Linked DNA regions of Homo sapiens. The protein of the gene in region 2 interacts with the protein of the main gene of each other region in a biochemical or structural test. Each region holds a gene or a part of one and is shown on either strand. Other genes may lie near its edges. The genes, in order: CSNK2A1, HSP90AA1, PPP5C and FKBP4.

Evidence for each region.
Region 1: the proteins of HSP90AA1 (region 2) and CSNK2A1 form a complex in vitro, tested with the Homo sapiens proteins (4 studies listed by BioGRID and IntAct, with this or other methods).
Region 3: the proteins of HSP90AA1 (region 2) and PPP5C form a complex in vitro, tested with the Homo sapiens proteins (4 studies listed by BioGRID, with this or other methods).
Region 4: the proteins of HSP90AA1 (region 2) and FKBP4 form a complex in vitro, tested with the Homo sapiens proteins (4 studies listed by BioGRID and IntAct).

What each region holds. Positions count from the first base shown.
Region 1 is NC_000020.11:484,787-491,819, forward strand, and holds part of CSNK2A1 (casein kinase II subunit alpha), read right to left. Parts: intron 5,096-7,033; coding exon 4,994-5,095; intron 3,993-4,993; coding exon 3,892-3,992; intron 2,790-3,891; coding exon 2,641-2,789; intron 1,677-2,640; coding exon 1,590-1,676; intron 1-1,589. UniProt on the Homo sapiens protein: Catalytic subunit of a constitutively active serine/threonine-protein kinase complex that phosphorylates a large number of substrates containing acidic residues C-terminal to the phosphorylated serine or threonine.
Region 2 is NC_000014.9:102,080,209-102,084,044, forward strand, and holds the end of HSP90AA1 (heat shock protein HSP 90-alpha), read right to left. Parts: intron 3,776-3,836; coding exon 3,585-3,775; intron 3,486-3,584; coding exon 3,338-3,485; intron 3,095-3,337; coding exon 2,826-3,094; intron 2,237-2,825; coding exon 1,903-2,236; intron 1,614-1,902; coding exon 1,504-1,613; 3' UTR 534-1,503; downstream 1-533. UniProt on the Homo sapiens protein: Molecular chaperone that promotes the maturation, structural maintenance and proper regulation of specific target proteins involved for instance in cell cycle control and signal transduction.
Region 3 is NC_000019.10:46,350,076-46,357,108, reverse strand, and holds part of PPP5C (serine/threonine-protein phosphatase 5), read right to left. Parts: intron 3,362-7,033; coding exon 3,120-3,361; intron 1-3,119. UniProt on the Homo sapiens protein: Serine/threonine-protein phosphatase that dephosphorylates a myriad of proteins involved in different signaling pathways including the kinases CSNK1E, ASK1/MAP3K5, PRKDC and RAF1, the nuclear receptors NR3C1, PPARG, ESR1 and ESR2, SMAD proteins and TAU/MAPT.
Region 4 is NC_000012.12:2,790,763-2,797,994, reverse strand, and holds the start of FKBP4 (peptidyl-prolyl cis-trans isomerase FKBP4), read right to left. Parts: upstream 3,026-7,232; 5' UTR 2,856-3,025; coding exon 2,751-2,855; intron 2,055-2,750; exon of another isoform or gene 1,627-2,054; intron 1,119-1,626; exon of another isoform or gene 1,049-1,118; intron 858-1,048; coding exon 713-857; intron 267-712; coding exon 124-266; intron 1-123. UniProt on the Homo sapiens protein: Immunophilin protein with PPIase and co-chaperone activities. Component of steroid receptors heterocomplexes through interaction with heat-shock protein 90 (HSP90).

The DNA.
Region 1 (7,033 bases), on a different chromosome or scaffold from region 2:
CCAGGTGCAGTGTCTCACGCCTGTAATGCCAGCACTTTGGGAGGCCAAGTTGGGCGGATCACCTGAGGTCAGGAGTTCAAGACCAGCCTGGCCAACATGGTGAAACCCCATCTCTACTAAAAATACAAAAATTAGCTGGGCGTCATGGCGGGCGCCTGTAGTCCCAGCTACCTGGGAGGTTGAGGTGGGAGAATCGCTTGAACCCGGGAGGCGGAGGCTGCAGCAGCTGAGATTGTGCCACTGCACTCCAGCCTTGGCCACAGAGCAAGACCTTGTCTCCAAAAAAAAAAAAAAAAAAAAAAAAAAAAAAAAAAAAAAAAAAAATATATATATATATATATATATATATATGAGAACATTATTATACATTCTTCTCCACTCCTCTTAGACATGGCTCTGCATCTCACTTTTTCTTTTGAGACAGAGTCTCACTCTCACCCAGGCTGGAGGGCAACGGTGCGATCTCGGCTCACTGCAACCTCTGCCTCCCAAGTTCAAGCGATTATCTTGCCTTAGCCTCCAAGTAGCTGGGATTAAAGGCGCCGCCGCCACGCCCAGCTAATTTTTTGTATTTCCAGTAGAGACAGGGTTTCGCCATGCTGGCCAGGCTGGTCTCGAACTCCTGACCTCAAGTGACCCACCCGCCTCAGCCTCCCAAAGTGCTGGGATTACAGGCATGAGCCACTGCACCTGGCCCTGCATCTTGCGTTTTAAATTTCACATTATTATATTGGAGTTGGAGATCTAACAGAACATGAAACTCTTATTCTACTGGCTGCACCACATTCCATTAAATGGATATACCATAACTGATTTAACCAGTTTCCTACTGATAGCTATTCTCAATGTTTTGTTATTACAAATAAGGCTACAAGTAAGTTTGGATATACATTACTCTGTACAGAGGTAGGATACTCAAGGGGTAAATTCTAGAAGGCAGTTAGTTCTTTTCTTAAAAAAGAGGAGGGCAACAGCAATTATTTGAGGATATGTAAGTAAATGCCTTCACTACCAGATATGCACCCACTTGGATGTTGCCTATATGTATAATTCTTATGCTATGTGCCTGTAGTTCCTTTGGAATAACTGGGTACTCTATAAAAATTCACTGTGCGTCACAATGATCCAATAATGGAAAACCATTTTACTTATGTTTTTACAACTGATAGGCACTCTATAGTTGCTCTGGCACATGTCACGGAACTGTCCTTGTACACATACACACCTATGTATAAACCCCACCTCTATACCCCATTTCTTAACATTGTTTCTAAGGGCCATGTAACTACTGTCATTTCAAACTATAAGATGAAATGGTGTATTTTTCCTTTTCATGGCTTGGCACTTTCAAGCCCCTATGCCAAAAATTTTCAGCCAGGAATGCTGAGATTCTAGCCTAGAAGGGGATACCCTACTCAAGACAGTATCACTAAAGTATACCAAATGTCAAGCATGCTGAAACCTGGTTAAAAAAAAGTCACAAGGCCACCAGTACGGAGAAGAGAAGGTATACAAGAAATCAGACCACAAAGCTAAGAACAGTAATTGACTTCCACATTTTTTTAAAGAAAATTTACCAATGAACTGACCTGACATCATATTGGCGCTGCTGACGGGCGTACTGCCCCCTGGCATGCTAGATGAACCCATTCGAGCCTGGTCCTTCACAACAGTGTCTAGAAAAGAGACAAAAAGGCTAGGTTCTGTTTTGCTTGAAAGATTAAACTAATGGTCTGGAAGCCTGAAAGCAGCCAGCTTCATTCTTTGCAATTTATATATACTCTACATTATTCCCCAAAGAACTTAAGGTGGCAATTGCCTTCACCATGAATTAGACAAGTGGTAAAAAGCAGAAATAGCTTTCCTATCAAACTGTGGTAAAAGCTAACCTTTCAATCAAATGGTAGAAAGATGAGGTAATTATTTATAGCAGAGCGAATTTAATGAAGCCCTGGTCCTGTTGAGGTTTAATGGAGACAAGACACTGTAACTCGGCAAAGACGGTAATATATTACCAGTGTGTCCACAGCCCAGTACCAAGTAGGCCAAAGCTATAGGTCCATGTAGCTTAGGGCTATGACCACATTCTCTATCCCAATCAGCCTATCTATCTGCTTCAGGTATTGGGCAAAAGTATAAATGATTCAGTACAAAACCATCACACCGAAGGAAAAATGTCATGTTGCAGCTAACATCACAGTGCAGATGGGGTGGGTCTCAGTGGTATTTTCACTTAGGATGGCACAGGTGGCTATACTCACAAATCTAAGTCAAGGTGTTCATACAATTTTAAGATTTGTAAGCCTCATTAGCTCTTTCCAACGAATGATTACTAGGGACAGGAAAGATACAGGGCTGTGTATTCTAATTCAACCATTCCAGACTGAGGCACTGAGAAGTGTCATCCTCACAGTATGAAAAGAGTTTATTTAGGAATGCTCTTGTGTCATGTATTCTGTTACAGAAGAATTCTTCCAGTAATTCTGCAATGTAGTTGCCATCACTATCCCCACTGGAAGAATCTGAGGCTCAGTGTGGGTGAATTAACTTTGCAGCAAGCTGACAGGAGCTGGGATTACGACTCTGTTCTATAGGACTCTGCGCCTGCACAAACTCTGTGGGCTAGATATCTGGACTCACAGAAATAGGGGTGCTCCATTGCCTCTCTTGCAGTAAGCCGTGACTGGTGGTCATATCGCAGCAGTTTGTCCAGGAAATCCAAGGCCTCAGGGCTGACAAGGTGCTGATTTTCACTGTGGACAAAGCGTTCCCATCGCTTTCGAGAGTGTCTGCAGGACCAAAAGAGGGCATGAGAAATGGGCCACGTGGGCACAGAAGCCCAACATTTCATTCCTACATTTTTCTTAGTGGCTAACAGCCCAGACAAAAGCAAAGAGGGATCCAAACTCAAGAGGGTAGTCTTGCACCGCTCTGCCACTGAGTGGGACAACAAAGCTAACTGGAGACTGGAAACAACATAGCTAGAGTGAAAAAAGACATCTGAGTCCTCTCAATTTTAAGAAACATAATTCAGGTTACTTGACAGGACGTGACCGCTTCTGTGTAGCAAGGAGGGTCAGGTGGCTGAGCTCACCAGGCCTATTTCCCATCCCCACACATATTCCTGGCATCTCTGCCAATTGGCCAGCAAAAGCCTTTGCATCAGGAAAGTCCATCTCCTCCTGTTGAGTGGTTAAGTGTATAAGTACTATATCTAGTCACTACTGTTAAGAGTCGGTTGTCTGCATATAGCCTTTTTTTTTTTTTTTTTGGAGACAGGGTCTCACTCTGTTGCCCAGACTGGAGCGCAGCCACATGTTCATTGCTCTCTGTAGCATTCCCTCCTGGGCTCAAGGGAAGCTCCTGCCTCAGCTTCCTAGTAGTCTGGACTACTGCCACACATCACCATGCATGGAGTCGAGGGTCTCATTATGTTGTCCAGGCTGGTCTCCAACTCCTGGGCTCAAGTGATCCTCCTAAAGTTCTGGGATTACAGATATGAGCCACCGTGCCCAGCCTGCACATCAGTCTTAAAGCATGCATTTTCTACTTCAATTTCTTTCTCTTGGAGAGAGGTTTTTCACTTAAAGAAGCAAGGTAAATTTTGATTTTTGCCTCAACTGTAACCCTTCTACTAGAATCTACATTCATTTTGTAGGAATCCTCTAGCTATAACCCCTCCATCAGACTCCTGTAAGTTAATTTGAATAAAGGGCCATTCAATCCAATGCCTTTATCAGAGGCCTGCTCAATGCAGCATCCTGTGGCACTGGACCACTGACATCCTGACAGTGCTGGCAAAGAAAACATAACTATTTTGAAGATCCTAAGTGCCAGTTCACTCTCAAAGTGCTTAAGCCACAGATGCACATATTTTGTTTCATGACTTACCTGCCCAAGATATCATTGAAACGTGGATCTAATTCAATGTTGTATTTGTCAATATAGTCATATAAATCTTCTGTCCCCAGAACCTTGGCTATCCTCACCAACTAGTATTAAAGAAAGACAAAAACCCATATCACAAGCATATTATATTAACAAATCAACAATTAACAATGATTGAATTTACATAAACGGGTCATCATGTCTACAGGTATGAATGCTACCTCCTAACAGTTTAGACTTCAACTCAATGTGATAGTGTTAGAAAAAGCAAACTACTTTATAAACTGGTTTCTTCCTCTTGAAATGTCACCCTGGTGAACCCTTATTTTTCTCCCCTCAAAACCCAATTGAAGATGTCACTTCTTTTGGGAAGCTCCCATTGCACACTCAAACTACTCACCACTACTGCCTTTTGTGCCTTGTCCACATTTCTACTCTGAAGTTATGACTGTAACCTATTTTGTTGTATGTTTGACTCCCTTACAAGATCAGCTATGAACTATCTGAGGGGAAGAAAACTATTCTTTCTTTTTTCTGTATTCCTCAGTACTGCATGCACTTGATACAGAGTTATTGACTTTAATGGAATTCAGGTTGTATTCTTTGACTCATTAAAATTGGACATGGTGCTCAAAGGGAACAAGACAATGGTACCTTCCACAAGGTCCTAGAATCATTCCAGGTTCTTGTGAATGAAAGAGCCCTTTGATCTTCAAGGGGGAAGTGGAGTTAGTTTAAGAAACATCTGTAACTCAACCCATATAAAGAGCCAAAAGGATCACAGAAATACCACATATGGGCTCACATATTGGAGAAAACACCATATTGGAGATAAGGGTTTATTAGGAGAATTCTAAGGTAATGTCCTATTTTAAAAATCTGGATGACAATTTATATGTATTCTTCACAATAAAATAAGCAATGCAAATGACAAAGACTAGGGGGGAATGTCTGATTTCAAAAGGCTAAGCTGGTAGCTCCCGAAACATCAATCTAAGGATCAATATCGGGGTGGCTGAATAAACAGTGAACTGAAAGTTACAGGCAGTGCTGGCTATCATTGCATTAGGCCAGTACATTTTTCAATGGGTATAACATATATTACCTGATCATAATTGTCATGTCCATGGAAAAATGGCTCCTTCCGAAAGATCATACTTGCCAGCATACAACCCAAACTCCACATATCCAAACTATAATCGTACATCTGCATAAAAGTAAACTCACTGTTATTATCTGTGAATCCTCAGGCTTGTCACTTCAAAATAAAAAATTAATTTTTAAAATTAAAAAAAAATCACTCCACTGACTCAAAATCAAAACACTAATAACATCTTCATATATTTCTTTTTAGTCTTTCTTTTTTTTTTTTTTGGAGACAGAGTCTCACTCTGCTGCCCATGCTGGAGTGCAGTGGCGCAATCTTGGCTCACCACAACCTCCGCCTCCCGGGTTCAAGCAATTCTCCTGCCTCAGCCTCCTGACTAGCTGGGACTACAGGCGCGTGCCACCATGCCTGGCTAATTTTGTATTTTTAGTAGAGACGGGGTTTCACTACGTTGGCCAGTGGTCTCAAACTCCTGACCTCATGATCTGCTCGCCTCAGGTTCCCAAAGTGCTAGGATTACAGGCATGACCCACCGTGCCTGGCTAGTTTTTTCTTTTTTTTTTTTTTTTAGTTTTTTTTTTAGTTTTTTCTTTTATGCATCTTTCACTCGGTTTTAAAACAATTTTTACTTTTTTTTTTTTTTTTTGAGACAGAGTCTTGCTCTGTCGCCCAGGCTGCAGGGGTGTGATCTTGGCTCATTGCAACTCAGCTTCCCAGGTTCAAGCAATTCTCTGCCTCAGCCTCCTGAGTAGCTGGGATTACAAGCGCCCACCACCGCGCCTGGCTAATTTTTTTGTATTTTTAGTAGAGACAGGGTTTCACCATCTTGGCCAGGCTGGTCTTGAGCTCCTGACCTTGTGATCCACTTGCCTTGGCCTTTCCAAGTGCTGGGATTATAGGCGTGAGCCACTGTGCCTGGCTCTTTTTTTTTTTTTTTTAAAGACACAGGGTCTTGCTCTGTTGCCCAGGCTGGAGTGTAGTGGCGTGATCATAGCTCACTGCAGCCTCCAACTCCTGGGCTTAGGCCTCCTGAGTAGGTAGGATTACAGGCATACACCACTATGCTCAGCTAATATACATACTATTTTGAATTGTTTTCTTCACTTACATGAAAAAAAAAAAAAAAAAACCTCCAAATTGTTAGCCCATGGAGACCATCTAATGTGTATCATTAGTATTTTATTACATAAATGTTTCAGAATTCAATCTTTAATTTTCCTATAATAGGACAGTGTTCTGTTTTTCACAATTATTAGTAATACTGTAAAAACTATTTTTATGCATAAAATGCTTTTTGAACTCAGGGCTATAGCCTTAAGACCCCAAGAAAGAAATTCCTACAAGAACAAAAAGTCTGAAACTTTTAAAATCAACTGATAATAACCTGGAAAGACTGGGCATAAAAGATACTCCCAAGAAAACTTCAGATTTTTAAACACTTGGCAAATCTATTATTAATTTGGTTCCTTTCTCCTTTTTCTGTGAGGAGAAAGAAGGCTTTTTGGGGGAGCTGGGGAGAAGACCTTTTTATTTAGTATACAATTCAGAAGAACAAGAAAACATTCTTGAATTTACTCTGAAGATTGGTTAAACTTAGTTACAGGATGGGCATGGTGGCTCATGCCTGTAATCTCAGCACTTTGGGGAGCCAAGGTGTGAGGATGGGTTGTGCCCAGGAGTTTGAGATCAGCCTGGGCAACATAGTGAGACTTTCTCTCTACACACAAAAAAATTAAAAATTAGCTGGGTGTGGTAGTGCACGCCTGTAGTCCCAGCTACTCAGGAGGCTAAGCTGGAAGGATCACTTGAGCCCAGAAGTTCGGGGCTGCAGTCAGCTATGATCATGGCATTGCACTCCAGCCTGGGCAACAGAGCAAAACCCTGCCTCAGAAAACAAACAAAAGGCCGGGCGTGGTGGCTCACGAGGGCAGGAGATCGAGACCATCCTGGCTAACACAGTGAAACCCAGTCTCTACTAAAAATACAAGAAAAATTAGCTGGGGTGGTGGTGGGTGCCTGTAGTCCCAGCTACTTGGG
Region 2 (3,836 bases):
TTCAGCCACTACTAAGACCTCAATTTACGTAATTCCTCCTGTATATTATCGAAGGGGATTAAGAACTTTTCAGAGAATTTAAAGGACTAAACGTGATTGCCATTTACCAAGCATTCAATACCTGCTTAGCACGAGACTGAGACAAGGTCTCTCCCTGCCTGTGCACTGCCCCCTTAGACACTGTCACATATCCAAGTCCCAGGCATTTCCTATCATTTTTATATATGGCGTTAGGCTCAGAATGCAAATCCTATATGCTATCTAACCAAGTTTTGTCTCTAGAACCACCAAATTTCAGAAGTGAAGACTTTTATTTAGCCATTACCACCCCCAGTCCCCAGAGGGACTCTTACCTATTGGGCTGATTTTTTCATCTTTTTTTTGAGATGGAGTTTCGCTCTTGCTGCTCAGGCTGCAGCGCAATGGTGCAATCCCAGCCCACCGCAACCTCCGCCTCCCAGGTTCAAGCGATTCTCCTGCCTCAGCCAGGATGGCTTTAAGTAGATTTGTAAAGAACTTTGAGACACTGTAAGGCCAAGGAATTAAGTGACTGTATTTAACACAGAAGGTATTCCATGAATAACATCAAAACAACGTGGACACTAAGAGAACACATGTAACTCATGGACGCAGGGGATGCATGTTGTCTGCATTCCTGTTTTCTGTGCCTACGTGTGCTCCACCCCACACCTGCTGAGTACATGCTGGGAAGACCATGTCAACCCTTGGAGCAGCTAGTGTTTAACCATCTCCTGCTAGCGCCTCATGTTTTACATTTTGGCACTAACTGTCATCCAGATACTCCCCTTTCCCCCTAAATAAGACACTGTCACACAATATCTTTTAACTCATCTGTATTTGTTACAACTTTAAGCAGAATGTGACTCGAGCACTACATTTCCATCCACAAGACTGGGTCTGAGTTATTTTTGAACAGCTTTACGATATGCTTAGGTAGGCTTTTAACTTTGCTCCTCCAAACAATACTTTTCTTTGGAAAACAAGCCCTGTGGAGAGATCCTTCCATCAAGTTGCTTCAGTTTAACCTATTTCTAGAGGACTAGTACATGCAGAATTGTCAACTACAGGGAATGAAAAGTTCAAAAAGTAGATCCTACAAGATGTAACGAATACTTTTCTAAACATCAAGATACAGCTCAGAACACTTCAATAACAAGATTTGGTCTACTTAGGCATCCGGCTTGACAGCTAAACACTTTAGACCACAAAGTTAACATCATGTTACATACGTCTTACAGTGCACGTTACCCCAATCTGTGAAAATAAACCAACATGAAACTCAAAAAGCATTACTAGCTCTGCTTTAGTGCCTAAGGTATCACAGCATCACTTAGTAGACAGAAATCTTATCTTCCCCTTAAAGTAGTTGTCATGCCATACAGACTTTTTAATATTAACAAAAATAAAGAAAAACATCCTTGAAAATATATTATCAGAGGAATTGTAGAGTACTGAACAGGTAAGTCATCCCTCAGCCAGAGATTAGTCTACTTCTTCCATGCGTGATGTGTCGTCATCTCCTTCAAGGGGTGGCATTTCTTCAGTTACAGCAGCACTGGTATCATCAGCAGTAGGGTCATCTTCATCAATACCTGTTTCCAAAATAAAATCCTCATATTACAAAGATTTCTTAAAGCCAGCTATTAGGGTAATACTCTTGGTTTCTATCTGCTTTCAAGACAGTATTACAGGACATATGAGTCTCAATTTCATTTCTTTGCTCTTGTAAGACCTTACTTATCCCTAAAAAAAACATACTTTAATACCTCCAAGCAGCAAGCAGGACAAGGTGCTCCAAGTTTGGATAACTGAAAGTTCACCATTTTCTTCAATGTCACGTGTGTTTATTTTCTTTTTAACATTACATAGTATAAGGCTTACCCAGACCAAGTTTGATCATCCTGTAGATCCTGTTAGCATGTGTCTGGGGATCTTCCAGACTGAAGCCAGAAGACAGGAGCGCAGTTTCATAAAGCAAGATGACCAGATCCTTCACAGACTTGTCGTTCTTATCAGCCTCTGCCTTTTGCCTTAAGGTCTCAATAATGGAATGGTCAGGGTTTATCTCCAGGTGTTTCTTTGCTGCCATGTAACCCATTGTTGAGTTGTCTCTTAGGGCTTGAGCTTTCATGATTCTCTCCATGTTTGCTGTCCAGCCATATGTGCTTGTGACAATACAGCATGGAGATGTCACCAATCGGTTTGACACAACCACCTGTAATCAAAAAGTGATGACTAGGAACCTAGAAAGATTAATTCCTAAACTTTCATTGTGAAATGAAATCTGTAGAACCCAAATTTCAATAGATCCAAAATACTATCTACTGTCAAATACAACTTAAATGTCGCATTAGGTATCCAAAGAGCACAGGTTATAATTTCATGTTTTACATGCACAATTTTTTTTTTGAGATAGAGTCTCGCTCCATCACCCAGGCTGGAGTGCAGTGGTGCGATCTTGGCTCACTGCAACCTCCGCCTCCTGGGTTCAGGCGATTCTCCTGCCTCAGCCTCCCAAGTGGCTAGGATTACAGGCCGTGCCACCACGCCTGGTTTATTTTTTTCTATTTTTAGTAGAGACTGAGTTTCACCGTGTTAGCCAGGATGGTCTCGATCTCCTGACCTTGTGATCCGCTGCCTCAGCCTCCCAAAGTGCTGGGATTGCAGGCGTGAGCCACCGCGCCCAGCCACACACAACATAGTTTTCTGTTTTAAGTTGAAAACATGCGAAAATGGGCTATGTATGACTAAGCTTGAAAGCACCTTAGAAGTATCAATGATCAGGAAATGCTGTATTCACATACCTTTTCAACTTTTTTCTCCAATATGTCTTTCATGATTTTGCAGAGGTTCTCAAACTTTGTTTTTTTCTCTTCCTGCTTCTTTTTCTCTTCTTCATCCTCTGGAAGTTCCAGGCCTTCTTTGGTGACTGACACTAAAGTCTTCCCCTCAAATTCCTTCAGCTGTTGGACACAGTACTCATCAATGGGCTCAATCATATAGATCACTTCTAAGCCATGTTTCCGAAGACGTTCCACAAAGGCTGAGTTAGCTACCTGGTCCTTGGTCTCACCTGAGGTATTACAAAGTTACTTTTAGACCTTTTAACAGTTAAGAATGGTTTCATCTAGCTCTGACTTTTCTTGCTAGCCAGATACCTAGGCAGAACCTAAGACAGAAAATGACCTAGTTCATGTTAATTATCTTGCCTAGATCAATACCAGTTGTAACAGTGCTACCTGAGTAGAAAACACACCCACAGAGCCTACAAGATTGTAAGAACGACGTGTATGACTGTAACATAGTGTTCTCTTACCTGTGATATAATAGATATGTTTCTGGTTCTCCTTCATTCTGGTGCAGTAGTCCTTGAGAGAAACCATCTCATCACCAGAGGCAGATGTGTAGTACCTTAACAGCTCTGAAAGCTTCTTCCGATTTTGAGAGTCTTCGTGTATTCCAAGCTGAAACAAAGTATGTTCTTTACAAAGACTTTCTGAATTAAAAAAAAAAAAAAAAAACTAAAGAGGCCAATTGGAAAACTAATGGTTATTTACACCAACCTTTATGTTTTTAGAGAACTGCTCATAGAATTTCTTGTAGTTCTCTTTATCTTCCGCCAGTTCAGTAAAGAGTTCTAAGCATTTTTTGACCAAATTCTTCCTGATAACTTTCAAAATTTTGCTTTGTTGCAACATCTCACGGGATATGTTTAGAGGGAGATCCTCCGAGTCTACCACCCCTCTAATGAAGTCTGAAAAAAATATAAACCAAATGCACTGAGTCATTCCAAGGACAAAACTGGTACTATGTAA
Region 3 (7,033 bases), on a different chromosome or scaffold from region 2:
TGCCACTGCACTCCAGCCTGGGTGACAGAGCAAGACTCTCTCTCAAACAAAAAACAAAAAACAAAAACAAAGAAAAAACACTTTGGTTGTTATTCCTATATTCTCACCTCCTTTAACAGATGAGGACACTAAGGCTGAGAAAAAAGGCACTAGGAGCCATGCAGCTGCTACCCAATCTGAGCTGGCTGTGAACCTAGGCGTCCTGAGCCCAGAGCCTGCCCCATCTAGCCCCTGCACTGGTGACCGCAGACTCTCTGCCTGCAGCCCACATGTAAAATAGGGATTTTTATATCACATCCATCACTCATCTGTACTTGTGTAAATGAAAAGTCATTTCCACAAAACAATATTTATACACACTTCCTCCAAACAATGAACCGTTTTTAATTCTCTGTTTGATGAAGACAAAAGTGCTGAAGCTATTCAACTGATTGTGGCCCAGAAACAGTTACAAGCATGGACTAGGGGTTCAAGTCTCAGCTCTGCCACTTCCCTGCTGGGTGACCTTGGAGGAGGGACATCTCCTCTCTAGGCCTCAGTCTGAATTCAGGCTGAATTCAGGTGCACAAAGGGCTCCCAGCAGTGCTGGGCCCAGAGTGAGCAGACCGCTGAGGAAACCGAGGCTAAGGGGAGCTCCCCCGCCCAAGGCCAAGGTCACGTCTTTGCTCTGCTTCCCTGGCGAGCTTCTGGTCTAGGAGGAAACTCTAGCATCCAGCAAGCAGGAGGTAGAGTCTTGGGAAGATGAACTGCCCCAGGGCACATGGAGCCTGAAGAACTGCGCAGAAAGGAGCAAGGCTGAAGGCCTGCAGGCATATGGATGGCCTGATGACAGGTAAGCCCTCATGTTCATGTGGGGGTCCCCAATGCTGCTGGGAGAGCCCCCATGGGGAAATGGGCCATGACAATTTAGGTGCTGGGTATTCTGTAAAAGACTCTGAATTCCCCACCCCCTCAACCCTCCCTGCCATCCGCCAGGCCTGGGACACAGCTCAGACGTGGCACACCCACAAGATGGCTGAAGCCAACCAGCCCAGCCTCAGGGAGTATGCGGGGTTGGGAGTATGCGGGGTTGGGCCCTAGACTGGGCCAGAGTCTTGAAAAGCCTGCTCCTTACCCTGGGGAAAGACACTCTTGCAGCCCCACACTTGACGAAGACCCTGCCTGCAGCCCCTGCTCCTTACCCTGGGGAAAGATGCTCCTGCAGCCCCACACGAGATGAAGACCCTGCCCTAAACCTGTCCTTGGGGCTCCTCTCTTCTGCCCCACTGTCTCCCCAGGCCCCCTTCCCACCTGGAGCCCTGCCCCAACCCAACACCGACTGTCCTTGGTTACTCATTACTGAGCCCTGCAGCTCGTGACCTTTACTCAACCATGTCATCACAGCCACAGCCATCCGGAGGCGGCCACTCCTCTTGTCACCATTTTCTAGATTAGGACAGGAAGAGACAATGAGGGAGGGGCTTGGCCAAGAATGGCTTGGGAGCCCAAGCTGGGAAGGCCTCTGCTCTGCTGCCCCTGCCCCCACCCTTCTAGGTGTCGCCCTAACCCCCCGCCACATCTCTGCCCCCATCCTAACATGTGTCCCCTGGACTCATGCTTAGCTCAAGCCTTCACCTGGCCTGAAGTCCACCCTCCACCCCAGGCCAGCGGCCAACAGCCAGGACAGTGTCTGAGCTGGCTCCACCGACTGCAGACTCGTGCTTCTCAGCCCCGCGACCAACTGCAGACTCGCGGCTCCCAGCTCCCTGGTTGCCCCTCCCTACACGACACAAGCAGCTCCGAGTGTGATGGTTGCAAGGGAAGGAGGGAGTGAAGTGTGTCTGTGTCGGGGGGCAGGATAACAATCCTCTCGACACACACTGACCAAGCCCCCTGCTGCACCATCCCCATGCGCAGGACAAGCGCACGGCCCCGTCTCAGGGAGCGAACTCTGAGGTGGGAGAGATAAGGCCCTGAGGCCAGGCCTCCTGGGTTCAAATCCCAGCTCTGCTACTAACCAGGTGGGGGTCACTGGGCAGGTGACTTCACCCCTTAGGGACTGTTTCCTCATCTGTGCAAGGGGAGTAATCCCAGTTCCCACGTCCCAGGGTGCTGTAATGATTCAGCCAGCCTCCCTGAAGGAAGATGCAGAGCACACCTGGTGTGAAGGTGTGTGCTCGCTCTGCAGAGCCTCATACCGTCAGGATTTTCATTAGGTGGGTGAGGGCACTAGCGAATTCTCACTGTGCCCTAGGTCCCCTCCCTCATCAGCATATCACACATATCCTGTCTGCTGTCCCTGGCAGCATATCACCCTTCTTGTTTTTTTTTTTGAGACAGGGTCTCACTGTGTCGCCCAGGCTGGAGTGGAGTGGTGAGAGCATAGCTCACTGCGGCCTTGAGCTCCTGAGCTCAAGTAATCCTCTTGCCTCAGCCTCCTGAGTAGCTGGGACTAAAGGTGCGTGCCACCACGCTTGGCTAATTTTTGTATTTTTTGTAGAGATGAGGTCTCCTCCCTATGTGGCCCAGGCTTGTCTTAAACTCCTGGGCTCAAGCAATCCTCTCACCCTGGCCTCCCAAAGTGCTGGGATTACTGCCGTGAGCCACTGTGCCCGACTGCCCTTCCTCTTTTCTTCAAAGTGCAGATCCTCACCTGCAATTATTCTGCTAACCTATTCAGTGGTGGGTTTTCTGCCTGCCCCTGAAAGACAAGCTCCACCAGAAGAAGAGAGGCTGTGTGGCTCCTGTCCAGCACCAGCACTAACAATGACAGTAACCATCAGGTGAACCATCACAGGACACTGACCCCGGGCCAAGTACTGGTCTACTCGTGTGAAAGGCAAAAGCTCACTTTTCCTCACCGCTACCCTTGAGGCTGATCCTCTTGTTCTCCTCATTTCACGGATATGGAAAGGAAGGTGTGGCGAGGCGGGGTAACTGGCTCAGGGTCACAAAATGTGAGATGGCTGAGCAGAGCTGTGGCCTGGGTACTCTGGCCTGGGCCCAAGGCCCCACAGGCACTTGCTGGCTGGCTGAGTGGTAAGTAGAGGAGTGAATGGCTCCTCACACCCGTCCCCGCCAGCCCAGCCCTCAGTATCTGCCTGGCTCAGGTGCCAGGCCTGGCCCACTCCCCAGCTCACCGTCTCGTAGTCTCGCAGCGCGGCCCGGAACTTGCCCAGTGCCATGTTGCTGGCAGCCCGGCGGTAATAACCCTTGATGTACTTCTTGTCCAGCTCAATGGCCCGCGTGGCGTCTCCCAGCGCGTAGCCATAGCACTCAGTGCGCAGGTAGGCCAGGCTGCGGTTGCCATAGTAGATGGCATTGCTGGGGTTCAGCTCGATGGCCTGGCTGTAGAACTTGATGGCGTTCTCGTAGTCCTTGGCTGCGGAGACAGAAGAAGAGGCATGAGGCAGTGCTCCAACCCTGCGAGGACAGGCCCTGGGCTGGGTGACGCCCAGTCTCCCTGTTCACAGATGGGGAAGCTGAGGGCTACCCTGAGCCCAGAGACATCTCTTCAGCCTGCCCCTCCTGCCTGTCCCAACCAACCTAGCTCAGGGCTTGTCCTCTCGGCCACAGTCTCCAGGACTCCACACACCCGCCCACCCACCCCTCCAGCCCCAAGCTGGGCACTAGCAGCAGACTGAGGGAAGAGCACTCCGATAGCAAGAAGAGCAGGTGCAGAGGCCCAGAGGTGGTTGAGCCTTGTCTGAGGGCCAGTGAGAGCTGAGGCAGCTGGGTGGAGTGGGCAGGGGGAGGAGAGATGAGGCAGGGAGGCTGGTGGGACAGATCCCTGGGCCCCGGGCAGCCACAGTGAGGTCTGGACACTGATGTTCTAAGTGTGGAGTGACAGGATGTGACATCTGGCCAAGGAGGAGAGGTCGGATTTTATTTGAGATGAGCTATAGCTGTACCCTGCACTTTACCTCGTGACCTGTGGAATCCTCATGTCTCCACGGGAGTAAGGACCATCTGGTGCTCATTTTACAGACAAGCCATGGAGGTCTTGCTCAAGGTCAAATGCCCTGTCTGCACCTGCAGAGCCAGGCTTGATCCCTCCCTCGTGCCCATTTGACAGGCAGGAGAGCCAAGGCTTAAACAGCCTTAGAGGCTTGTCCCCACTGGGGGCCGTGATGTACCAGAGCCATGCAGGGCTTTAGTACACAGGTCCCCCTTCACTGAACTCTCACAAGCCCAGGGAAACTACATTAACCCCCGTCTCCAAATCTGGGGACTGAAGCTCAGGGAAGAAAGGCCGGTGCTCAAGGTCACACAGCAGGTGACAAGTGGGCCTTCTTTTTTTTTTTTTTTTTGAGATGGAGTCTCGCTCTGTCGCCCAGGCTGGAGTGCAGCGGTGCGATCTCCGCTCACTGCAAGCTCCGCCTCCCAGGTTCACACCATTCTCCAGCCTTAGCCCCCCGAGCAGCTGGGACTATAGGCGCCCGCCACTATACCCGGCTAATTTTTTGTATTTTTAGTAGAGACGGGGTTTCACCGTGTTAGCCAGGATGGTCTCGATCTCCTGACCTCGTGATCCTCCTGCCTTGGCCTCCCAAAGTGCTGGGATTACAGGCGTGAGCCACAGCGCCTGGCCGAGAAGTGGGCCTTCTGAGCCAGGCCAAGACCAAAAGGCTCCCACTCTCACGCCCCATGCCATGGTGACCTCTGGGCAGGAGCGTGGCACAGGGGTAAGCACAGAGGCAGGAGTAGGTGGCCTGGGCCCAGTCCCTAGCTCTGCCTCTTACTACCTGGGTATCCCTGGGCTACTGAGGAACCCCCTGTGGACTAGGGTTTCCTAGAGTCCTTCTACCAGCAGCCCTGCACAGAGTCCCCACCCTCACTCCCATTTTAATGTTCTCAACAGCACTCCGAGAGTCCTTCTTACACACAGCCCTGCCCTCCCAGGGCTTACCATCCAGTGGAGGAGACAGATCCATCCCTAGACAGTGGTGCCCAGTGTTTAGGGTTGGGGCAGCTCGGAGGGGACACTGGGGCTGAGACCTGGAGGATGGGAGTCAGTTGGTTGAAGAGATGGAAGAAGAGAGTCCCAGGCTCCATGAGTGGCTCCAGAGGGAAAGGAAGGAGGGATGCAGAGAGAGATGAGGACTGACATTACAGAAGGGAGAAGCCGGGTCCTGGGGATGTGGCCAGCAACAATCTAACAACATTCCTCTTTGCCACGCCAACTCCTGGCAATCTTTCAAATGCTCACATGTCCCCTCCTCCGGGAAGCCCTCCTTTACTCCCAGGCTGGGTCAGGCCCCCGACTGGGCTGCCCCAGCCCCTGGGATCTCCTGTGCCAGCCCTGTCCACTCTCATCGTCACTGTTGAGTAATGAGTGTGTCCCTCCAGAGCTGTAAGCCCCAGGAGGGCAGGGCCCGGGACTTCCCAAAAACAAACAAGGGCAGAACTGGGCAGCCCAGATCTGACCGACCCTCCCTGGAATGCCAGCGCCTTTGAGGACTCCTTCAGGCCTCCTGGCTGTGGTCCAGAGGCTGCCTGGCCCGCGCTCCTGATGGGGCAGCTGTTACTCCAGTGGCACAGGGAGGGGATCCTGGAGTCTCAGGGCCTGCCACCCGGCTCTGCAGATCTCTAACTCGAGGCTGCAGGCAAATAGCCTCCTCTTTCTGAGCTCTGCCTCACTGGGTGGCCGTGAGGATTTTACGAACTTGTGTAAGAAAACTGGCTGCAGCAAAAGAAGCAGGCAAAAGAAGTGAATGCGTGAATGACTAAATGAAGGGAGGAAGTGAAGGGAACAAGAGGAAATGGGAGGAGCCTGTACTCCACGGGTCGACCCACATGCCATATCCTGGCCCTGTTCTATGCGCTTTACAAACAGGACCATATTTAAGCCTCAAGACATTCCCCATTTTAGATGCAAGGAAACAGAGGCCCAGAGAAGTTAAGTCATTTGCCCAGGCGTCATCAAGCAGGTAAAGGAAGACATAGGGTTTGAACCCAGGCAGCCTGAGCTCTCAACCATGGCCTGCTTCCTCCCCACAAGCTCTTATACCTGGAGCCTCCTTAGGGGTTAAGCATAAGCCCCCACCCCCCATTTTACAGAAGCGGGGCACTGAGGCCCACAGAGAGGGGAAGACAGTTGAGACACTTCCCTTAGACTCAGACATGAGACGGGGGACGAGGCTCTGCCCCCAGGATTTCTGGAATAGGCCTGAACTTACAGAGCAACCAGCCACAGTTGAGGGGACAGTCCTCTGAGCCCTGGGACCTCTCTTCTCCCTGCTGGGGCCCCTCTTCTCCTCAACAGGGCCAGTACAGCTCTGGGAGGAACCTGAACGTGGGAGCCAAGCACGTGGCGAGGAAGGGGATATCCGGGCCCTGCTGCTCACACACTCTGACCTTGGGCGAGTGGTTTTTTCACTTCTCCGAGCCTTGCTTCCTTTATAAAACAAACAGGGCCACTCCTAGCCATCTCCCAGCCCCCGGGGAGGATTAAACCCCACAGCGTACCTGGCCACAAGGCTCAATTAAGGTGAGCTGTCATTATTCTTTTTTATTGTTATTCCCACAGCCCTGGAGCCTGGGGCTCTGTGCCTGCTACTGCCTGACAGACAGCAAGGGGCCTGGGCCAGCAGGGCCGTTCTCCTCCGTGCCAGCTCAGTGCCAGGCCCCTCTGGCTGCCTGCCCAGCCCCAGGACTCCTGAGAGCCTGGATCCCAGGTCCTGGGGGGCAACAGGCTCCTCCCAATGGCTGCTGTGGCCCAGAATTCTGATGCGGCCTCAGCAGCAACCCCCATGCAGGCTGCTCCCATCCCAGGGAATTCCACCTTCCACCCCATCACCTGGCTGAGACAGCCTCATCCTGGACTCCTCTCCATCCCTCAGCCCCCAAAGCCCGGTAGTCACTTCACTTATTCTGCCAAGTCAGCCTCCTGAACATCTCTCAGATTCAGCCACTCCCTTCTCACCCTCCAGCCCCACCCAGCCCTGGTCTGGCCTCTCCTGCCCAGGTTCCTGGCTCAGCCTCCACCTGGCCTCGCAGCCTCTTGTCCTGCCCCTCCAGAGGGGTGTTCCTAAAACACAAACCTGACCCTGTC
Region 4 (7,232 bases), on a different chromosome or scaffold from region 2:
AAGGCCAGACCCTCAGCCTTGGCTACATTGTCTCCAAGAAGCAGGAAGGGCTGGAGGGCAGCCAGGCATTGGGCTGAGATAAGGCCTGGCTCTTAGCCTGGATCTCAGTGACCAAACACTCACCTCAAATACAAGCGTGGCATTGGGGGGAATCTTTGGAGGACTGCCTGCTGAACCGTAGGCATATTCTGGTTTGCAGGTGATGTGGCACACCTCCCCCACCTTCATGGTGGCTATGGCAATGTCCCAAGCCTTGATGACCTCCCCTGCAGGTACAGAAGCAAACAGGACCGCCTTAGCAGGGTTCTGATTCTGGGCTCAAACAGTGCTCCTGAAGAGTTACTGCACCACACTCATGGGGAAGCTGGACATCCTTTAGAAATGGGACCAGAAGGTGAGGTACCTGGTTGTATTAAGTGCTACCAGGTCTAAGAACTGTAAAAGATCACGTGACCCTGAACAAAAGAGTTTAAGATGCAAGACAGTCCACCTTTGAAGGGGGAGTAAGGTGTTGGGAGGTGATGAGGAGAAGGGGAGACAGAGATCAATATAGTTACAGAACGGTAGAAAAAAAAAAAAAAGAGTGACCGAAAGAGTTAACAGACTGTGATAAACCATTCCTCCCTGAGCTTGGTCCTGAGAAAATGGTTTCTGCTTGTGACAGCTTGTGTCCACCTCGAACCTATCCTACCAGCCCACTGACCACGCCTACCTTTTCCCAGGTCAAAGGAGAATTTGTCCTTGCGATCCAGACTGGAGTCAAACTTTGTGCCATCTAATAGCCAGCCAGTGTAGTGGACAAAGACTCGGTCCCCAATCATGGGCATCTCTGTACCTGTGCCCTCTCTCTTGATGACCTGGGAGGAAGGGGGAGAAAGTGAGTACCCCAGGGTTTGGGGCAGAAAGGGGCACCAGCACTGCCTGCAAGCCTCCAGAGGGAACATAAAGGGACTTCTCTGTGTTCATCCTCCTCTGCCTACTTGTCCCTCCAGATTCAGTTACTAGCAGCTTGGCTTATGAGTCAACTAACCTTCTTGTCTTTCTTGAGGTGCAGCAAGACTTGGTTTGAAAAAGGAGACAAAAGGCTGAGAGATCTGAGTTCAAGTTTCCGCTGTATGGTAAGTTTTTAAAATTCTCCACACTTTATTTGTAAAGCAGTGATGATAATCCCTATCTCCTACAGTTGTTGGAAGATTAGACCAGTAAAAGGTTGAATAATAGATTATTATTATAATCGGCAAAGGGGGAAGTATTTATGCCACACTTCCTCCTTCTTCCTTCATGCCAGTGGTCGTCAGACTAAGGTCTGGTTTGGAGACAGGAGAGCGAGAGGAGTATGAGTGAAGAGAATAGAAACAGTTCAAAACAGGTAAGGAAGAAACCAGGTTATAGGTGAACCCGGAGGCTCTCCATGGGACCTTAAACTCTGACTTGGGAGCTGAGTATTCCTCTGGTAGTTAGTCCAGGGCTGGAGTATTTCCCAGAAACGTAAAGGCTTCTTTAGCGCCACCTGGTAGGTGTGTGGTTACCCTCCAAGGGAAAGCTTCCACGAAGAATAGACAGGGGCTTTGAGGAGTAGAAAGGTAAAAGGGAAGGAATGATGGATCAAAGGGGAAATGAGCTTTCCTGGAATAACAATCTCGTAGAAAACGGCAGGACGCTGGAGCGAGAAGGGGAAGTCACATGCCACAGGAGAGCCGCTGGAGCAGACGCTTGAGGTCCCCAATAATCTGGTGCAAAGACAGATGCACTTCTGGACCAGGTAAAGGCCCCCTGAGGTGGGTGCCGCACACGCGGAGCTCAGCGGTGGGAAGCCAGGATGAGGACGCAGCAGCGGATGGGGAGAAGGCATAAGACGCAGGCTGGGAATTCACCATCTCTGATTCTCCCTGGAACCTGCTCCGACCCAAGGCAGGTTGTCCTGGCCCAGGTCAAGATGCCCTCCCCGCAGCTCCCCAGGCTATTTGTAGTCGAGCGGTCACTCGGCGGCAGGCTCCACAGCAGAGCGCCTCCTCCCCGCCCCACACCCCGCAGCCCTGGCTCCGGGAGGCGGCGGAGGGGGGAGGGGACTACAGCTCCCGGCATGCCCCGCGCCCGGCCTCCCCGGGGCCGAGGGAGGGGGCGCCGCGCGGCGAGTGGGGACCTCGCTGGGTCCCGGCGTCGGCAGGGGACCCCGGGAGGGCGCCGGAACCCTGTCGCGCCTGCGTCGCACAAAGGCCGAAGGGCCAGGAAAGCACTGTGGGGAGTCGCTCCCCGTCCTGGCCCGTGTTCCACCGCCCGGGTGGGCGAGCCCTGGCACCGCCACCAACGAGGCGGCCCGCGGCTGGCAGCTCCGCTGGGGCCGCGAGGTCGGGGGCGGCGTGGCGTGGGAGGCCCGGCCTGGCCCCGGGCTGCGGCTCGGGTGCCCGCGGCGGTCGCCTCGCCCCGCCCCTCTCCGCCGCCCCGCGCGCGCCGGGGTGGGCACTGCAATCCCGACCCCCTGCCCGGGCCCGGGCGCTGCCGGCTGGGGAGCCTGGGGCCTCGGCCCGCGCACCTAGGCCGCCCCCCTGCCGAGCGCATGGCCGGCCTCGGTGCCTTAAACGACGCAGCCCGGTCCGGGACGGCGATGCCACCGGCCCCCGGCGGGACGGCCGCGAGGCTGCAAAGGCGGCCGCCTCGACCCGTGCCCGGCCGCGGGCTCCGGGCGCGGCGGAAGGGCGGCCCGCGGGGCCCCGGGTTCCGACGCCTCCGCAGGCCCCGCCGCCCCTCACCTTCAGCACGCCTTCGTCCTGTTTGGGGCTGATGTCCACTCCCTCCATGGGCAGCGGCGCCGACTGCGCCCCGCTCTCGGTCGCCTTCATCTCCTCGGCTGTCATCTCCGCGCGGCGCGCCGTTTATCCGGGAGCTGGTGCCGGCGCGAGCGCACTCTGGGCCGCGGGCGGGGGCGCTACCTGCGGGGCGTGCGGGAGGCCGGGCGCGGCGGCACTGACTGCGGACCGCGAGGAGGCTTGAGCACCTCTGCACGCGGCGCGAGAGCTGGGGTAGGTGGGTCAGGAGCGGCTCGGGGAGCGATTGGTCCCGCCCCGCCGCGAGGGAGGGGCTGGGAGGAGCGGGAGCGCAGACAGAGGGGGCGGGGTGCAGAACTTTCTAGAGACGGCGGGACTGAGCCGGTTCGGGCTCAGTGCTGCGGGCGCTTCGGAATTTTTTTTTCTTTTTTTTTTTTTGGTTCTTGCCTCCTTCTGGCTGCCTGCCCCCTCCCCCTTCTCCTGGGACCCTCGGACTCGGGATCTCCCCGGCGGCCTCCCTTGGCCCTTCCTCCCTCCCTCCCATCCCCGCCCGCTTCCCTGTCTAACCGGATTCTTCCAGATTCTTCTCGATCGATCTCCCGACATCACTCCACCAGTCCGCTGCGCCTGCGGCGGGGTGTGGGGAGCGCAGGCTGCGGGATGGCAGTGGCGGCGCCCCCTCCCCGGGACCGGCCGTCACCACGGGCGGCGTGGCCTCTCTGCTATGACCCGCGTAGACCCTTCCCTACTTGGGGGAAAGAGGGCAAGGGCGTGCGCGGGGAGCGGGGAGTGAGTGGACAGCGCTGCCCCGCTGCAGAGAGCCGGGGAAAGCGACCTCGATTTCCCCAGATCCGAGAAGCCCCGGCCAGGCAGCGATGCCTCGCTCAGCGCCTGCAGATGCTGCGAGCAGCGGGGTTGGCAAGGCATGGCCCGCCCAGCTCGGAACTCAGATGGGGCACACACTCAGGGGACCCTTCCCGGCGGTAATAAAACTGCCGTTTCCGCGAATGCTTACAAAGATGGGTTCCCCTCACGAAAAAAGTCACTCGGTTTTCCTAAAGGCCCACAGAAGGAGTATTTTCTTCTCAATGTTTGCTTCCCGAGTGTTTTTCGACAGGCTGTGGAGCGCGCAGGTGCCGGTGTCACCTAAGCTATGGTCGTGGGACCTAGAGAGCCATCTAGAGAGGGGCCTGGTTTTGCTCAGCACCTAACCCCAGTTTAGCATAGTGCCTGGTGAGTGATGTCCCAATAGTTACTGGCTGCATGAATTTTCCTTTTTTAAATTTCTTTTTCCAAGTCTTGGCTGATTTTTTTTTCTTTTTTTTTTTTTTTTGAGACAGGGTCTTGCTCTGTCGCCCAGGCTGCAGTGCGGTGGTGCGATCTTGGCTCTCTGTAGCCGGGACTACAGGCGTCCGCCACCACGCCGACTAATTTTTGTATTTTTAGTAGAGACGGGGTTTCGCCATGTTGCCCAGGCTGGTCTCGAACATCTGGTCTCAAATGATCCGCCCGCCTCGGCCTCCCAAAGTTCTCGGATTACAGGCGTGAGCCACTGCGCCCAGCCTGAATTTTTATTCCAATAATAACTGTATTTTTGGACTTCCCGTTATGTGCCCGGCACTGTGCGATTGGACGCCATTAGTCTCATCAAACTAAATTGAAAGCTTTTTAGAGATGAACTTTCAGCGTCATAATGTGATGATTTATTGTAGTCCCTGCCGACGGAACTTGAAAGGGATGCAGAAGAAAAAGCCCTTCGCTTCAGCAATTTACAGCCCAAATGAGTTGAGCCATAATGAAGACGTCTCTTTAGGTGGCTGGAGACAGCTTCAGAGGATACGGGGCGCTGCCTCTGTAGGGGTTAAATCCACTACTTTTATGCAGAAGTAACAGTGCCAGGGGTCACCCAAACTCCGGGAGACCAGGATGGTGGGTGCTGGCTTCCGGGGTGGCAGTTTACCGCAAACTGTCCTTGGCTTGCACCTACTGATTCTCCACGTGTGGCGGTTTCTTTTCTGCGTCTTTTTCTTCATCGGAAGCGGACAGTGTGGGACCCCCCCTTTAATTCTGTTCGGCACGTACATAGTGGAGCCCTTCAGATTGCCTGCCGTTACATTAACACATAGCCTAATACCCTAGTGGAATGAGCATGTGCTTTGGAGTAAGGGACGTTGGGCGGCCCATGTGTTATGTTAGCTGTTTAAATTGGGGCAGGTTAGTTAATCTTCATGTCTCGATTTCTTGTCTGTAAAATAGAGATAGTAACATTTGTAAAAGAGGGTGATTTAATGGTTAAAAAAGCGGGAATCTGTGTATGGTATCTAGCTCAGTCCTCGCCTCCAACTCCGCAGCTGGTAAATAACGGTCGTTTTAGTGTGATCTGATAGGCGCTGCAGTGGAGATGGGGACAAAGGGCTAAGAAAACAGAGGTCTGTGAGACAGGGAAGGGCAAGAGGGCAAGGTTCCCGGTGAGAAGCTCTGTCCCCACACAGTGAAGGAGGAAACTAGGGGACCACAGGCAGAAACTAGGAGAAACCACAGGAGGAAACTAGGGGTCTTGAATCCTGGAGCAGGAACTTACTGTTTCTCTTAGAATATTTCCTGGTCGTTTATGTGATATTTTTCTGATCATAAAAAGTACATATACTGTAGAAAGTGTGCACGTGTTTTAGTCTCTTTCCTCTATCTCCTCACCCTTTCCCCAGGCCATTTAAGTTAGTATTCTCATTAAAGATGTGTAACCGGTACCACTCGAAATTCTTCCAAAATGTCCCCTTTTTTTGCGGGAGGAAGTCAGCACACTTTTTCTCATCCACCTTATCTGTAGGTGACTCCTGCTGGGATCAGAAACTTTGTTTTCGTCACACTGAGCCTCTTAGAGCTGACCTGGCTCAGATCCCAAACTCTGGGCCCATCATTTACACATGAAGACCCCTTGTTTCTACAGTTCATATCTTGACCTTCCTAGGCTGCCAATGCACTTAACATCCAAATAATTGTATGATATTTGGATCGTTCAAAAGACTGAAATGCATATAGGTGTGTGTGTTCATGTATGCATACATGTTATGCAGTATACCAGTACAATGAAAGCTGGAAATCTGTCACCCAGCCTAAGTTAGAATGTTCCCAGTATAATTTGTCAAAAATGTAATGCCAAAAAAAAAAAAAGCCGTTAAAGACCTTTACATATTTTCTTGTTAACTTTGGTGTCTGTTGATTGAGAAAATAGAAACTCTACTGACCAAAAAATACATATTTCTTTCTTTCTTTTTTTTTTTTTTTTTTTTTTGAGACGGAGTCTCGCTCTGTTGCCCAGGCCGGACTGCAGTGGCGTGATCTCTGCTCACTGCAAGCTCCGCCTCCCGGGTTCATGCCATTCTCCTGCCTCAGCCTCCCAAGCAACTGGGACTACAGTTGCCCACCACCATGCTCGGCTAAATTTTTGTATTTTTAGTAGAGACGGGGTTTCACCGTGTTAGCCAAGATGGTCTCCATCTCCTGACCTCGTGATCCACCTGCCTCGGCCTCCCAAAGTGCTGGGATTACAGGCGTGAGCCACCGTGCCCGGCCTCTACATACTTCTTAAAACATTTATTTATGTTAGTGATTTTAGTCCCATTTTCATACAATTTAAAAATAGTAGGCCCCTATGTGAGGCCTGTGCATAGTGAAGACCTGCGTGAAGGTTAAGCTCATGGGCTCTGGATTGGATTCTCCTGGATTCCAATTCCAGCACAAGCTCTTTACCTGGATTCAAATCTCAGCTTCATCATTGAACTCACCGTGTGAGTCCTGGAGGAAGGTTTCCTTGTCCCTAAAATGGCTGTCATGATAATGCCTTTCTCTCAGGGGTTTTCTCTGAAGATTAAATGGGTTATTTATTTTTTGGAGACAGGGTCACACGCTGTCGCCCAGGTTGGAATGCAGTCGTGCATCACAGCTCACTGCAGACTCCGCCTCCCAGGCTGAAGCAAATCCTTCCACCTCAGCCTCTGGAATAGCTGGGACTACACAGGCACAGACCACCATGCCTGGCTAACTTAAAAAAATTTTTTTTGTAGAGATGGGATCGCCCTGTATTGCCCAGGCTGGTCTTGAACTCCTGAACTCAAGTGATCCTCCTTGGTCTCCCAAAGTGCTGGGATTACAGGTGTGAGCCACTGAGACTGGCAATGGGATATTACATGTGAAGTACCTGAACTTGTATATGGTACACAGGGCGTAGGTGAGTGGTAGTGTGTGTGCCACATTTCAGCCTGTTGATTGCTGGAATATGCAGTTGTGTTTTTTGTTTGTTTGAGACAGGCTCTCGAGCTCTGTCACCCAGGCTGGAGTGCAGTGGCGTGAACATGGCTCACTGCAGCCTCAATCTCCCGAGCTCAAGCAATCCTCCTACCTCAGTCCCCCAAGTAGCTGGGACTACGGGTACATGCCACCACACCCAGTAATTTTATTTTTTGTAGA